2 separate regions of the Homo sapiens genome follow, and region 1 is linked to region 2. The links come from fine-mapping of genetic effects on gene expression. A gene starts in region 2. The other region holds a variant in brackets. All regions are shown on one strand. Distances are from middle to middle. Region 1 holds the start of LINC03040 (long intergenic non-protein coding RNA 3040). Region 2 holds the start of SCIRT (stem cell inhibitory RNA transcript).

Region 1 (8,323 bases), 76 kb after region 2:
TCTGCGGGGGCGGGGAGGAGTCGGCGCGGGGCTGGGGCTGGGAGGGGAGTTTATTTATTAGCCAGATTAGCCAGCATTAATGGGGGAGCGGTGGCGGCCGGCGGCAGCAGGGACATAGCTGGCATAGCTGGCATAGCGGCGGGGCCTCCTGCGGCGCGGGGCTCCGCGGCTTCAAAGGGGCTTAAAGAGGCCCTTGGTGGCACTGCCACGGCCCCGCGGGGGAGGGCGTGGGCGCGGGCGGCGGGGGAGAAGGCGGCCATTGTGCACCGAGGGATTAGGGCTCTGGCCTGGAAGGAATTTTAAACTGCCGCGAGCCGGAGCCCCAGGACTCTCCTCCTGCCCCACCCCTGCCCTCCGGAGCACGCTGAGGTGTTTACCTGCTTTCCTATGTCTGGGGTGGAGGGGGTGTCCTCTCTCCTCCCTCAAACTGGAGGCACCTAGGGTTACCAGATCTGGCAAATAAAAACACAAGACTTCCAGTTAAACTGGATACTTTAAATAGTGTAAGTCTGTCCCAAATATTGTATGGGACAGACTTATGCTAAAATATTATTCGTTGTTTATCTGATATTCAATTTAATTGGACGTCTTGTATTTTTTTTCCTGGCAGCCCTTGAGGCATTGAAATCTCTAATCCATGTCTGGAAACAGATTGATGGTTCCCGAAAGTCCAGTGGGTATGCCTCATTTGAGAGATCCCTAAGGGCAGGGTCGTGTCTCTCCCCTTACACTGGGAGTTTCCTGAAGCCCAGATACTGAGTTTCACCCTAAAGAAGGCAGCTCTGAGAGCACTATATGTGTCCCCCGTCAGACTGGGAGCTTCCTGAGGACAGGGGCTAAATTTCACCCATGAGAGTAACGCTTCAAGGTCAGTGTCTGTGACCTGTGACACTGGGGTTTCCTGAGGCATGGTCTGTCCGCTTCCTAGAGGGCAAGTCTCTCTCCTCCCTCACGTCTCACTCTCCCACCCCCACCCCACCCCAGGCTGCTGGAGGCTCCTCCTCCATTAGTGTTGCTTCCTGCCCATAGGGGGTGCTAGGGGCCCAGCGGACTGGCCTACGGATGGATGGGACCTGTTTATTGGGACTCGGGGCTTCAGTCCTTCGGGGTTGATGCACTTGAGAATAATGAGGGTGGGGTCCCCAACCTGTGAGGCTTGCTGAGGCAGTTGAGGGCCAGGTCTACTGGGGCCAGAGGCGGTGGCCAGCATGTGGGAGAAGCTCTGGGTGCTGGGTACCCACTGTTTCTTCCAGGAAGGGACAGTGTGGCCCTTGGTACAGAACATCCTGCCCACCTCCTCTCATAACCATTGAAGCCAAGCCCCAGTCCTCCACCAGCCTCTCCAGACCCCACTGCCTAACCTTTGCTTGTGCTGTTCTTTCTGCCAGAAACACTCTGTCTTCCTGCTTTGAGGACAGCTGAAGTCTTGCCACTTCTTCTGGATGCTCTGACCATCAGTAAGGTGGGCTGCTTGTGCCTGGGGGTCTTCTGGTGAAAAGAGCCCTCCATCTACTCCCTCCTTCCTCAACAACTTTGGCCACAGGGGCCAAAGAGGGGGCCAAGGTGGGGGAGGGGAGAGACAGGAACATTGGGGGAGCATAGGCAGAAGGGGAGTAAGAATAGGAACCTCCTTCCCCCCAACCCATCCCCCTGAAGCCCCTTCACAAGTCCCTTCATCCCCTCAGGGCCTCTGAACTCTTTCTCCTTGAAGCTGAGGGAAGCCCTGGAGAAGCGCTTTCCCACGGTCACAGCCTCAACAAACCCCTGCCCCCTTCTCCTTTGACTGCAGCCACCTCAGTCTCACCCTCCGCAGAATGCAGGCCCACTCCGTTGCTGAAGGGCCTCCTCCTTGGGCCAGGGCGCCTGCTTCTGCCAGTGGCATCATCACCCCACTCCTCAGCCGCCAGTCATCAGGTTGGCAATTAGCTACTTCCTCTCAGCTGCATGAGGCCACCAAACGTCACAGCCCCTCCCCTGGCCTGCCGCGGCGGGAGTGCTGGGGGCTGCCCCTACCCTTTGTAGTCAGTGCCAAGTCCTGGCTCAGTCCCCCTTCCCTACAACCTACTGAGTGCTAGGGTAATGAGCCTCCCATCTAGGGAGCTGAAAGCCTCGCTGCCTTCTCCCCGCTTCAAACCTCCTCCCCCATGTCACCCTATCCCATTGGGTGAGGACACTCCCGCTGCCTGGGTGGGGTGATGCCTGCTCAAGGGCACTAGCAGCCTGGGTGGGGCTTAAGACTCAGGTGTCTCTGTCCCCAGTCACAGGCGGTTTTCACCAGCCCCTTACCTGGGGCCCAGGAGTCTGAACTGAAGATGGTGGCAGTTATTTGGGAAGGGGAGAGAAATGGGGACTCATTCTACAGACCCCCAAACATGCAGGGGGCAGGCCCTTCATGAACACCCACATGGGCTCATTTGCCTGTGTCTAGGCACACACACGGTTACAATCTAGGCAATGTATGCTCCACTGCACTGTACCCACATGTGCCCCAGGTGGGCAAGTAAGCCCACTTGCCCAGATACCTCTCATGCCCACACATCCCTCCTCCAGGTGTGTGCATGCAAACTCACTGACATACAGTACTCAAAAAGGCAGTGAGCTTGCTGCCACACCAAAAACAAAACCGGGACCCTACAGAGGAATCTAGAAGCATGGGAGGGAAGGAGAGACCACCCCAACACTCGCTACCCCACAGACCAGGGAATCTTCCTGGGGAAGGATGGGAGGAAGTCTGCACTTCAGGGATATGTGTGGGGTACGCAGGTGGGCCGTGGTGGAAGCAGTTGTGTTGGAGTCTGGGTTGGGGGTGGAGGATGTGGATTTCCAGAGAGAATTGAAAAATTCCAACACATATAAACAAAGGCATGTGATCTTAGGCAGATCACTTAACTTCTTGGGGGCCCCAGTGACTGCATCTGTAAAATGGGAATAATGAGAACACCATTTAAACTTGGTTGTCAAATTTATTTTATTTTTATTTATTTATTTATTTTTAGAGACACGGTCTGACTTTGTTACCCCGGCTGGAGTGCAGTGGTGCAATCATGGCTCACTGCAGCCTTAACCTCCTGGGCTCAAGTGATCCTCTCGCCAAGGCTAGGATAAGTAGCTAGGACTACAGATGCGCCCCATCACGCCCAGCTAATTTTACAACTTCTGTAGAGATGGAGTGTTGCTGGGTTGCCCAGGCTGGTCTTGAATTCCTGGGCTCAAGCGATCCTCCTGTGTCCGGAATTGGTGGGTTCTTGGTCTCACTGACTTCAAGAATGAAGCCGCGGACCCTCGCGGTGAGTGTTACAGTTCTTAAAGACAGCGTGTCCAGAGTTTGTTCCTTCTGATGTTCAGATGTGTTCAGAGTTTCTTCCTTCTGGTGGGTTCGTGGTCTCGCTGGCTTAGGGGTGAAGCTGCAGACCTTCGCGGTGAGTGTTACAGTTCTTAGGGCGGCGCGTCTGGAGTTGTCTGTTCCTCCCGGTGGGCTCGTAGTCTCGCTGGCTTCAGGAGTGAAGCTGCAGACCTTCGCGGTGAGTGTTACAGCTCATAAAGGCAGCGTGGACCTACAGAGTGAGCAGTAGCAAGATTTATTGCAAAGAGCAAAAGAACAAAGCTTCCACAGCGTGGAAAGGGATCCCAGCGGGTTGCCACTGCGGGCTGGGGCAGCCTGCTTTTATTCTCTTATCTGGCCCCACCCACATCCTGCTGATTGGTAGAGCCCAGTGGTCTGTTTTGACAGGGTGCTGATTGGTGCGTTTACAATCCGAGCTAGACACAAAGGTTCACCATGTCCCCACTAGATTAGCTAGATACAGAGTGTTGACACAAAGGTTCTCCAAGTCCCCACCAGAGTAGCTAGATACAGTGTCGATTGGTGCATTCACAGTGCTGATTGGTGTGTTTACAAACCTTGAGCTAGATACAGAGTGCCAATTGGTGTATTTACAATCCCTGAGCTAGACATAAAGGTTCTCCACGTCCCCACCAGACTCAGGAGCCCAGCTGGCTACACCCAGTGGATCCTGCACCAGGGCTGCAGGTGGAGCTGCCTGCCAGTCCGGCGCTGTGCGCCCGCACTCCTCAGCCCTTGGGTGGTGGATGGGACTGGGCGCCATGGAGCAGGGGGTGGCGCTCGTCGGGGAGGCTCTGGCCGCACAGGAGCCCACGGAGCCAGGAGGAGTCTCAGGCATGGCAGGCTGCAGGTCCCGAGCCCTGCCCCGCGGGAAGGCAGCTAAGGCCCGGGGAGAAATTGAGCACAGCAGCTGCTGGCCCAGGTGCTAAGCCCCTCACTGCCCAGGGCCGGTGGGGCCTGGCGGGCTGCTCCGAGTGCGGGGTCTGCCGAGCCCACGCCCACCCGGAACTTGCGCTGGCCCGCAAGCACC[G/C]CGCGCAGCCCCGGTTCCCGCCCGCCCCTCTCCCTCCACACTTCCTCGCAAGCTGAGGGAGCCGGCTCCGGCCTTGGCCAGCCCAGAAAGGGGCTTCCACAGTGCAGCGGCGGGCTGAAGGGCTCCTCAAGTGTGGCCAAAGTGGGAGCCCAGGCAGAGGAGGCGCCGAGAGTGAGCGAGGGCTGTGAGGACTGCCAGCACCCTGTCACCTCTCACTCCCCCAAAATACTGGGCTTATAGGCAAAAGCCACCACACCTGGCCTGATTGTGAAATTTAAATGAGATAACCCGGCTCAGAGCAGGCCCTGAGTTGACATTACTATGAGGAGACCTTCCCAATATCCTGTCGCTTGATGGTGGGCTTGCCTAAGAGAGCTGCCCTAGGGAGATAAGAAGCCCTCATTCTGGACCTTACCTGACTGCTACATGCTCCCCCCGTTTTTCTTTGATTTCTGGGGTCCAGCCCCAGCCAAGGTGCAAGATACAAGTTGAGAGGCATGGCAGGGCATAGGGATGGGTGATTGGGTGCTACTTTGGACTAGGCTGGGGGTGGGTCTAGGGAAGGACTGGCTACCTGCCCCGCCCCTACCTGGCTGGCACAACAGGTAACTGAGTGCTGACTTTTATTCCTGGGAAGGGAGGAGTCAGGCAGTGCCTCTCTGTCCAGGCAAATGGGATGCAAGGGTCAGGAGCATGGGTGGAGAGGGTTTCTAGGAATATTCCTGAAAGAAGACCTGGGAACAGGCACTGCTGTCAGGAGCTACTGCCTGGGCCTACCAGCCTGTATCCCAGCTCAACAAACATCCTTGTCCTTGTTTCTCAGAGTCTGTATCCACCAGCTACTCTTCCAGATTCATGAGGCAAGGCCTGCCTGCTCACCTGGCTGGCCCCAAGCACCTCTTCAACCTGTTGCCACCGTCCTGCCTTGCTGCCCTTCTCAGCTCATCCAGCAGGGTCTCCAAGTCGTGGAAACAGAAGCACATATACACACATGCTCATATGTACATGCCCACAGTCACATAAGCACACCGAGAAACACCATCGCAGACATGTTCTCACAAGCACATGTGCATAACACTCACTACCCCTCACGCGTATACACATTAATACACACACTCATGCACACTCAGTCTTACACACACAGACACACAGCCATAATCACTGTTGTTGGTTGAATTGTGCCCCCCCATCCCCACCAAAAAGATAAGTTGGAGTCCTAACCCCCAGTACCTGGGGATGTGACCGTAGTTGGAAATAGGGTGTTTGTAGATGTAATCAAATTAAGATGAGATCTTACTGGATTAGAGTGGGCCTTAAATCCAGTGACTGGTGTCCTTATAAGGAGAAAAAGATTTGAAAACAGAGACATGGAGACACAGAGCAGAAGGCCATGTGATGATGGAGTCAGAGATTGGAGTGATGCAGCTATGAGCCGAGAAATACCAAGGTGCTGGCAGCCCCCAGAAGCAAGGAGAGAGGCAAGGAACAATCTCCATCAGAGCCTCTGGAAGAAACAGACTCTGCCAACACCTTGATTTCAGACTTTTGGCCTCCTTCACTGTGCGAGAATACGTTTCTGTTGTTTTAAACTACTGAGTCACCAAGTCTGTGGTACTGTGTTATGGCAGCCCCGGCAACAAATCCAATCACACACACACACACACACACACACACACACACACACACACACACACACACAGCTGGCTCCAGGCTCAGTGATGAGCTCAGAGGAGTTCCCCTTGGGAGCTGCTCTTTCTCTGTCTTCCTTCCTTAGTGATTGGTCCAGTGGATCCACAAAAGCTCATGGCCCAGAGCAGGAGCCCAGTCATTTTTAATTCCTCTTCCCTGGAGTTCTTAACCATGCGTTGCCCTCAAAATCTGCTCTCAAGATTTGGGTTGCCATATTTAGGAGCACCAGAAAACATACAGGAATGCTGTGTCTGCTTGCATCATATTAATTAAAAACTGGAAATAACCTAAATGTCCCAGAATAGGTACATAAACTGTGGCATATCCACTTAATGGAATACTACTCAGCAATACAAAAGGAAAACCTAGTGTTACTTGAGCAACATGGATGAACTTCACAGACATAATATTGCACAGCACGAGGCAGACACAAAAGTGTGCATATGCTATGATTCCATTTACATGAGATTCAAGAACAGGCAAAGCAGATCTATGGGGATAGAAGTCAGAATAGTGGTTACCTCTGGAAGGTGGAATTGACTGGGAGGGGCTTCAGGGAACCTCCTGGGGTGCTGAAAACATTCTGTGCTTGCACCGGGTGGTGGTTATGTGGGCATTACATAAAATTCACCAAGCTGCACCCTTAATGATTTGTACAATTTGATGCACAAATCTAACATCTCAAGAAGAATAAATTTTACAAAGTACCTAAGAAGCAAATGACCAGAAGCCACCGGACTGTTTTCTGGGGGCATTTATAGCTAGAGTCTGGGCCCTCTAGGCCCTCTGTCCCAGGGACAGAAAGCCTTGGTCCCTGGGACAGCCATGTGTGGTATCATCGTACAGTGCATGTGGGAAGGAATTCCACTCTTCAGTTGTGACAGGGCTGGACACACACACACATGTATACCTCTTGGCAGCTTCCCATCCTCATTCACAGTTGCAGGTTTGAGAGGGTATATCCCCCAGGTACCCTGAAGCCAGTCTCTGAAGCTGTCGAGGGTCCCCCAAGTCAACAGACAAGTGGTGGGGGGCAGGTAGCTAGTGAGAGGAAGGGGGAGCCTTCCTCCCCGCTTCATCCATAGCTGTGGAGTGAACTGGCCTGGGGTGGGTGGCTGCAGGGCTTGCCTTGACCCCTGCTGCACTGGTGTCCTCAGGCCTGGGGCCTCTTGTATGGCTGACTTTCCATAATATTTGTTGACTATAAATGTCCAGCCTGGGGCTGCCTGGGAAGGCCAGGTGTGTCAAGACAGCCAGACCATCACGACATTAGTCTTTGGGAGAGGACTGGGAGGTACACAAGATCCCACTGCAACTGGCTTCTCCAAAGAAAGACTAAATGCGATGATTTCTTCCACAAGAAAACTCCAAATGAAAAAGAATAGCTACATTTTACTCAGGTTTTGTGATCTGACTGGCATGAACCAAACATCTTTGAGGTGTGTGGCCATGTTGCCATTACACAGACAAGAAAACAGAGGCTCTGAGATATTGAGTAAAACCCCCAGGGTTACACAAGAAACTCAAGAGAGGACAAGTAGCATGATAGTTCCTTCCGACTGGGGGTCCCTGAGGACAGGGCTGCATCTCCCCTCAGACTGGGGCTCCCTGAGTAAGGGCTGTGTCTCCCCTCAGTCTGAGCCCTATCTAGGAGGGGCTTAGAGGAGGAGCTGACTTTGAACCTGCCTTCTTTTGCATCCACACTGGTCTCCTGGAGAGTCTTGGAGGGGCTGCTGACCTGGCTACCCCTGCTCTTTCTCACCCTGGCTGTCACCCCTAGTTCTAGCCTAGGGCTCTGCCTACAGGAATGCCATAGTGTGGGGCCATGGTTCTGACCAAGAGGGAAGTGGGGGAGGGTATGCACCAGAGGAAGCTGTCCCTTGGTGGCCATGCTAAGATCAGTGGGATGTCCCTGCAGCTTCCCTCCCTTCCTGACCAGGTCCACTGGGGGTCAGGACCACCCAGCTGATCCATGCCAGAGCCACACTGAGCAGAGGGCTGGCTGGACCCTGCCCTTCCCAGGAGGATCAGCTGGGAGAAGGGCTCCATTTGTGGAGGGGGCAGAGTGGAGTGCGGCCTCCTGCAATGTCCAGGAGTAGGTGCTCCTCACTCTGCCCATGACTCGCCAGCAAGAGCTGATCATGTGATGGGGGCCAGGTGGCAGGTGTAATAGGAGACAACATCCTCCTCGGCCTGCCCTGTGACTATATTAAGTTTTGTGCCCTGGCATTCCCCTGCCCCTGCCCCCAGGACTTTCCCTC
Region 2 (8,323 bases):
CAGCAATGAGGGGAGACTCTCTCAACCTGCCCATGTCCTCCTCTGAGCAATCTCCCCGCCCCAGAATTATTTCAGTTTCCTCATCTGTCAGTTCTAGGGGTGGACTTCATTCATTCAATACTGTGTCCCTGACCTCTGCTCCCTGCCAGGCTCTGAACTAGTCATGTGTCAGGCTGGATACTTAGATGGACAAGACAAGCCATCCCCTGCCCACAGCTGCCCCACCTGAAGTCTAGGCCAGTGACCTCCGAAGTTTTTTTGATCATGTGCCCTTAGCAATAAAAAAGATTGTTGAGTACGCACCCGTCAGATGAGTATGTTTTTATATAGTTTACCTTGTAAAACACACTCACACTAAATGAAAAAAGGATTCGATGAAAAATAAATAGGCATTCTAAAACTTTCTTCCAGTACCCCTGAACCACGCACACATATGGCACTTGGAACCCAACTGCTCCAGGAGCTGGGAGGGTAGGGTCAGTCCAGCCATACTCAGGACGGATGTGTGGTCAGTGTTCCAGAACATCCTTGCCCACCCCTTTATGCCCTAGCAAAGGAAGGGAGAAACTTCAGATACAGCAGGTGGGAGTGTGGGCAGATGGGAAGCGTAAGCAGGTTTATGTCTGAGGAGGCAGACAAGAGGCAGGTTTTTATTTTAGACTGTGATGTTGAAAATTTTGTGATCACTTTTTACACTGTCCCAGGACATACAGAACCAAGACATAGTGTCCCAAGTAGTATCTAATTTCATATACTTTAGGTAGTTCTATTCCATTTCCAAAGGTTTAGAATACCGCCCCACCTCAACCCCCAGGAAACTGGGGAGCACTCCCTCCACTACACACACTTGGGACACGAAGGACAGACCCTGGTTGGGGAGGCACTTAGGTGTCCCTTCCTTAGGGGCTTTATCTCTCACTTCCCCTCCTGGGTTGGAGGCTCCTGTGACCCCCTCGCCTGGGCAGGTCCCCATGCAGGGTAGAGCACTTGGAGGCCTCTGTAAACATGGGTTACAGGAGAGAGGGGGCAAGAGGCCACAGCTGGGGTACATAAGGAAACCCCTCTGTGGGCCCCCTTACTCAGAGAAGTCTCAGGAGAAACCCTTTCCCCCACCCCCAGTCCTGGCACCAAGCTGGAGAAAGACAAAATGGCTTGTGAAGGCATCTGTCTGCCCTCCAGGGTGGCTGCCAGGGGGGCAGCCATGATGGCTGGCCTGGTGTGGGTGCCTTTGTGTGCCATGACTGGGTGTCTGTTTCTGCAGTCACTAGGCGCTTGTTCTGTGGGGTGAGGGGTGTGGGGGTGGGGGCACGGCCTATGGCAGGGCACGTACGTGAGGCTGGGCACGAAAAGCCTCACCCACCTCCTGCCAGGTACAACCAGCTGCTGGGGCCAACTGCCGACCGCCTCCTCCCTTCCCTGGGCACGGCCAGGCCGGGGGGCAAATGACTTGGCAGGCACCTCCCCTCAGTTGGACCCACTAGGGCAGGGCCGGCTCACCTGGGGCACAGGCAGGGCTCCTGGCTGGGTGGGTGTTCTGCCAATCCCTTCCCCAACTCCTAAAGTGGGAGGGTGGTGGTGAGGCCAGGGAAGGGGCGCAGGTCAGAGATATGCCCCCTCTCCTCTCCCAGACTGTGCATGGGTAAAGCAGGGCAGAGAGGGGCTGGTGGAGGGGCGGGAAGTTTCTCTGTTTAGGGCCAGGAAATGATTTCCATGCAAATGAGATGCAAACTCCTTAATGAGTTTGCAATTAGGAGACCAAGGCTGCCAGGCCGGGCAGCGCCTGCAGGTTTTATGAATGGGCCAGCGTAGGCGGGGGGGAGGGGGCGCGCCGGCCCGCCCCCACATTTCCCTGCCGCGGCGCCCGCGACATGCCGCGCCGCACGTTGCTGCCTCCAGGCCCCGCCGCGACCTGGCCCACCGCCAGCGGGTCAGCTGCTCCGGACGGCGCGGGAGGCTGCCGGCCAGAGTCCCCGCCACGCCGCCGGCCGGCGACGCAAAGGAGCCGACGACACTCCCCCTGGGGCCCGGCAGGGGCTCTGTCCTCGGGCCCCCTTTTTTCCCGGTTATTGGAATGATTTCCCGAAGCAGGAAGGCCAGAAGTTAGCCTTCAGGCCCCGTTGTATTTAAAATGGGCTGCCCTGGGACTTCACTGACCAAAGGAGGGGGCTGGGCCCCTAACTTGGGTGACAGCAATGACCTTGGGAGGGATGGAATTATACGTGACAGGAGAGGGACCAGTTCCCATCCCAGAGCTCCTTGCACCTCTCCAATTCCCTCATGCCAGTCCACACCTCCCTAACCTCAAAAGGCCTGTTCCCACCACCCCAGGGCACCTGCTTTTTCTGCAGAGCCACCCTAGTCCACTTTGGGTCTTGCTCTGACCTGGGGCCCAGGAGAGGGTCTCCTAAGTGGGTGGGTACACACAGGTTTGCTGTGGTCCAGAAGGAGGCTGACCAGAGTTTGAGAGTTTGAGCCCAGTTAGGTCACAGCCCCCTACCTCCTCCCCTCCCCTCTCCTCCCCCTGTCCCCGCCCTGCCCCATTGCTTTCAGAGTAAATTAACTAATTACCTCCAATTAAAGCACCTGGCTCTCTGTATCCTCCTAGGCCTTCAATCACTGCTTCTGGGAGTCCTCTTCATCCAGGCAGGGTCTGGAAGGGGGCCTGACCAGTAAGTTGGAAGTCAGTGAATCAATGAAGTGGGGCGGGGAAGACAGGATGGAGGAAGCCCACAGTGCCATTTACTGCTTGGGAGTGGTCCAGGCAGCCAGGACCTCTGACTTGGCCAGCTTGCAGACTGAGGTTGGGTCTGGGGACTTGGGCCCTAGGGGGGCCTGTGAAGGCTGGGAGCAGGAGCTGCCTTTGGAGGTTAAGTCCCTGGTGAAGGGCCTGTGCAGATGTGTGCAGATGTCAAGGCCCTGAGGGTGACCCTAGAAGCCCCTCAGCAGGAGAAGCAACTTGAGGGTCAGGTCCTAGAAGCTAGCAGTTCTTGGCACCTGCTGCCTCCCTCACCCAGCAGGCAGGGAGAGACTCCAAATGCCTGTAGGCCCAACCAGTCCCTCCTGTCTTTAACCCCAGCTGGCTCCTCCTGCTGCTCAGGAAGTGAAAACCCCTCCATTCTTTTCTCCGGGCCCCCTTGGTGGCCCCCAGGCACAGGCCCAACACTAGCTCTGCCCAGCACTGTCCTGGCCCACCCCACGTGTAGGACGTGATGGGGAGGATACCTGGTGGCAGGAGGCAGACTGATGGATTGTTGACCTGGGTCTCACCTCTGGACGAGCTGGCCATTCCTGGGGACTGGGCAGGGTCACGCCAGGCTGTGACTCAGGCCCCTGCCCCACCATGCCAGGGACCTGGGCTTGGGCCATCCTCTGTGTATGTGGGGTGGGGTGGAGCAGAGGTTTGTCAATTGGAGGCTTCTCTTTGGGGACACCTCTCACAGCCCCAGGGAGCCAGACTATGACTAGAAGGATCAGGGTTTCCATGGCTGCTCCTCCCCACCCACCACCCCAATAGAGGCTGACAGGAAGGACTCCCAAGCAGGGCACAGCAGCCATATGAGTTAGTGGGTGTATGAGCCATCCAGGACAGGGGTAGGGCTCAGCACACAGGAAGGGCCACTCCTGGGGTGTCCTGAGCCCCTATCTGCCAGCTCGGCTTGTCTCCCTAGGCCCATGGAAAGCTGGCTCAAAACTCCCCACCTCCAGGAAGGCGTCACCATGCCTCGCTTGTTTGTGGCCAGCCCAGCGCTGCTCTCAGCTCCCACTTTTCACTTGTTTCTCTGCCTCTTGTCCCCTTTCCCAGATCCACCAAGCGTCTATGGGCAGACTGTTTTTTCCTGCACTTCCTAGTGGCCAGCAGAGGGCGCCGCCAAAAGACTGAGGCCACCACGGAGGGAACAGGAGAATCGGCTTTTTGGGGTCTAGCCACTGTGCAGAGCCCAGGCGCGTGGGTCGGTGTCGGGTGTGTGTGTACGTCTGTGTGTGTAATGAAACTGGACGCCTTCCTTCCCGGCGATCTTGACTTAACCTGTCAGCAGAGGGCTTGAGGTTAGACCACAGGTTGAACCTAGGTGGCTGCTGGAGAGGTAAGCCCAGGTGGCTCTTGGCAGGAAGAGGAGGATGAGTGAGTTGCTCCCTTCTAGCAACCCAAATGGGAAGGGACAACGGAGGTTGCCAGCTTTCCTCCCTGACCCTGGAAGAAGGGTTGGGAGGGGTTGCACAGAATAGCTGGTGTCCCACCCTGTGGGAGGAACTGCTATGGACATCTGGGCCACATCTGGTTTCCTGGCAAGGCAGGGAGCTGGTCTGTTTGGAATTCTTGGTCCACCGCTTGGTGGTCCCTCACCATTACATTCTAGGAGGACCCTTTACAAACAGGTGTATAGGGCGCAGCCCTGTAATGCGAGTGAGTCCACAGCAACCTAGTCGTGGTCACACTCCTTTGGAAGTGGCCCTAGGGGCCTGGGCAGCAGCCTGCTCCTCTGCGCCACTCGACCTTTCTGTGGCCATGTTGGAGTCTGCATGCTGAGATGCTGCCCTTTCCCCTTGGAAATGCTGGGAAATGTGCTCTGGTGTCCATCCTGGCCATGCCTCTTCCTCCAGGTGGGGTAAGAGATGAAAAGAGGAGTTAGTCTGCAGTACCTCTTAGGGACCCCACCCCATGAAAGGCGGAGTGGGGAAGTGCTTGCTGTTGGGTCACCTCCACGAAAGCTTGGGAATGCGGTTGGGACGGGTAGCGGGAGGAGGGGTCAGCAGGAGTGGTTCTTTCTTGGGTCTGGATTCTGGGTTTTGGGGACGAGACAACACGGAGGAAACCCCTCTTGGTCGGCTTGGTTCCAGGAGGCTCAGGCCGGGAGATGGCCGTAATGGCCTCGCAGAAAGAAGCGGGAGCGGGGGAGGGGGAAGGCTGAGCATCGAGCCCACCCGGACTCTCCCTCTGTCCTCCCCGCTGCGGGGGCCCACCCCTTCGCCCCCACCCCTCTATCTCCAGGGCCGCCGCGGCCCCTCCCCGAGACCTGGGCGCCGCCTCCCCCTCCCCTCCTCCTCCCCCTCCCACCCAGCGCTGCAGCTGCTGCCGACGGACCATTCTGCACGTAGCGAATGGAGGAGACGCACAAGGGAGGCCTCAAGTGCGCGCGCGCGGGAGCCGGAGCGGCGCGGGCGGGGGAGCGGCTGCGGGCGCGCGTGCGCGTGCGGCGCCGGCTTTGATCGCGCGCGCCGAGCTCCGGAGCGCGCTGCTCTTCTGAGCGCCGGGGTTGGGGATGCTGGGCGGTGAGCCTCCGTACCCTCTCCACTCCGCGCACGCTCTGTTACCCCTCCAGCAAACCCCGCCTCCAGCCAGGACCCTTTTCAGTTGCCACCCCAATAGTACTGTCCTCTGCGCGTAGTAGGGTCTTCTGTTACGGTGTGCCGGGTGACGGATTGTACAGTCAGCCAGGTCCTGGGCTAGGGTTTCACAGAGTTCAGAACATGCCCGTGTTCATGACCATATAGTTTCACTTTTGCCCCAGGATCTCTCAGCCTGGAGGCCCTCACCCGCCTGCCTCTGCTGCACCTCAAACCTAGGCAAGCCCCATAAAGCCCCTTATAAGGGCTTGGGAAGAAAAAACAAAGGAGTGCTTTGACTTTTATTTCCTCTGGGATGGGGAACTCCCAAGGGAGTTCATTTCCCTTTCACCCCCTCCTATGTTACCTGCACAGCTCCTACTCCCTGGGGTGTCCAGGACTCTGCTGGGCCCTGCCCACACCACTGACAAAGGTGTGGTATGGTAAGCACAGAGTCTGCGTCCTGGGACAACCCAGGGAGTACAGGGAGGCTGTGTCAGGCTATGGCAGGCAGGGCCTTCATCTTGGAGGTGTCTCCTGACTTCCAGGGGCACTCTCTTCACTTCCTGAATCCCTGATCAGGAAGGGGATTGGCAAGTGGCTGGCCTGCCACCTGGGCCACTGGCAAGTGGGTGGCCGGGGGGGGGGGGCTGTCTTCCTTCCCTGGATGGGCTACGTTGGCACCTCATTCCACCTTCCTCACTGTGCATCCTGGCTCTCCTGGCTAGGTGGGCATTGGGCAAGACAGGTGACAGGGCCTTGCAAAGGGATGTCTGAATAGGGTCGGTGGTGTTTTGAACCTCCCTGTGGGAGTGAACTGAAGGGGACTGGTCTGTGGAATGTGCAGGTGGAGGTAGCTGAGAGCTCTTTGTCACGTACTAACTTAAACTGGCCCCAGTTGTTTGACCCCTCTGAGCCTCAGTTTTCTGTGTAATGGGAGTACAGCATTCACCCAGCGGGGCTGTTGAGGATTAAAATATAATCTGCCTATAACATGCCTCATATGTTGGAGGCATGTATGAGGTAAACCTTTTTTTATTATTGTGTTTGAACTGGCTGAAAGTCTGGGGACATTTCCCTCAGCTTTGTTTCCATGGATAGAGTGAATTCAAATCCCGGAGCTGGCAGCTCCTTGGAATTTGAAGGTGGGCTTTGAGAAAACTGTAAAGAGGCCAGTAACATGTCATGTTTATGTCACCATCCAAGAATGAACCATTTCATACTAGTTTTCCAGACATTAATATCTGAAACCTTAAAAAGAGATATTTTGGATAGGAATCACTAGTGGATATTACACGCTTTCCGGGCTTTTAATCAGAGGTTACAGAACATGTGAGTCTTCATGACTCAGGGTTGTGGTTACAAGGGTCCATCAGTATCCTGGTTGTAATACAGTGAAAATCCAAGGCCTTTTTTGGCCCCACACCAACGGCTCATTCCATGAAGGCTACATTTTCGTAGTTCTTGTGTCTACTTTTATAGTACTTTATCACTTCATCAACTCTCTCCGTATAAACTATCACTTCTGTTACCATCACTTTGCCTGCCTCCAGGGCAGACCACCAAACCCACCCTATTCTCAACTTGTTTCTGTTTGGCTGTGGGCTGAGATGTCCGAAAATCACATCTGTTGGAAGATGTGAAAAACAACGAGATCTTTTGAACTTGACAAATTATATTAAAGTTCATCTGGAGAAATAAACATGCAAAAAGAGCTTGGAAAATCCTGAAAAAGAAGTATTATAAGGGACGACTAGTGCTACTAAAATGTTGTAGAAAGCTCCAATAATAAAATAGTTGGGTACTGGCACAAGAACAGACAGGCAGATCAAAGGAGCAGAGTAGAGGCCAGACACACACCCGTGAACAAATGGAAATTAAATATATGATAAAATGACATTTTAGATCAGAGGAGAAAAGATGAATTATTCAATCAAATTGGACAACTGGTTAGCTGTTAAGGGGGAAAAAAAAGAAATCCAGCTCCCCACTTCATCTCTTATTCTGAAATAAATCCCGATGGAGTGAAGATTTAAATGTAAAAAGGAAACCATAAAATTACTAGAAGAAAACATCTGAAAGTCTAAAAGTGTATGTTCTTGGATTGGGGAAAGTTTGACACAAAACCTAGGAGTCACAAAGGGAAAGAATTTTTTAAAATTGGCTGTATTAAAATATGACGTAGGGTGTTGTGTTACATGCCTGTAGTCCCAGCTCCTTGGGAGGCTGAGGTGGGAGGATAACTTGAGCCCAGGAATTTGAGGCCAGCCTGGGCACCACAGTGAGACTCCATCTCTGAAAAAAAAATGTGTTTTTAATGTAATATCCTGAATTCTAAAGACAACCGTCTGGAAAAAATATTTTTAACATAGATGACCGATGAGTTTTTACAAGTCAATAAGGAAAATAAAAACGAATAGAAAAATGGGCAAAGCACATAAACCGGTAAGGGGATACTAATGGTTAACAAGCAGGTGAAAATGCTCACCCTCAGTCAAAATAGAAGAAATCAAAATGAAGACATGAGAAGATTCTCTTTTCGCCAATTTGATTGACAACAACTAAAATGGGCAACCCCTCACTGTGTGGACACAGACATCCTCAGAGCTGGGGGGGAGGACAGTTGCACCTGTGAAGGGGATTGGCAGTATACATGAGAAGAATTAATTCACAAACCATGGACTCGAGGGTTCCATATCTAGGAATTTATCAGATGCACTGTTATAAATGTCACAAGTGTTCAAAGTATACATACAAGTGTGTTCATTGCAGTTTTGCTTCCAAACCTGAAAAACTGGAAGCAACATTAAGTCCATTAATAGGGCACGGATTGGATATGTTATGATGCCTCCAAACACCAATAGTATGCAGTGGTTGAAAAGAGTGAGGTTGAGGTTGTGTGTTGATATTCACTAAGTAGAAAAGCAAGTGGCAAGACATTCCTTGGGTGGTGCTACTCCATGAAGGGTGTGCCCTCTGCCAGCATGGGCATGGAGCC

What was found.
Region 1: its variant is fine-mapped to the expression of SCIRT in left ventricle (GTEx, PIP 0.98). The same link has a PIP of 0.9 or more in atrial appendage, prefrontal cortex and testis.

Annotation. Positions count from the first base shown.
Region 1 is chr6:43,994,182-44,002,504 of GRCh38, reverse strand. It overlaps SCIRT (stem cell inhibitory RNA transcript), which reads left to right. Exons shown (of 5, transcript NR_125864.1): 2 at 1,389-1,462; 3 at 1,790-1,914; 4 at 2,997-3,287; 5 at 5,197-6,782. It overlaps LINC03040 (long intergenic non-protein coding RNA 3040), which reads right to left and starts at 1,920. Exons shown (of 3, transcript NR_160956.1): 1 at 1,805-1,920; 2 at 378-452. It overlaps LOC124901321 (a long non-coding RNA gene), which reads right to left. Exons shown (of 2, transcript XR_007059591.1): 2 at 2,951-3,554. RefSeq lists enhancers at 1,664-1,813, 8,088-8,323. The variant G/C (reference allele first, on the strand shown) is at 4,374.
Region 2 is chr6:44,070,259-44,078,581 of GRCh38, reverse strand. It overlaps SCIRT (stem cell inhibitory RNA transcript), which reads left to right and starts at 3,930. Exons shown (of 5, transcript NR_125864.1): 1 at 3,930-4,085. RefSeq lists enhancers at 2,850-2,919, 4,040-4,299, 5,320-5,419, 5,460-5,519 and silencers at 4,810-5,069, 5,160-5,239.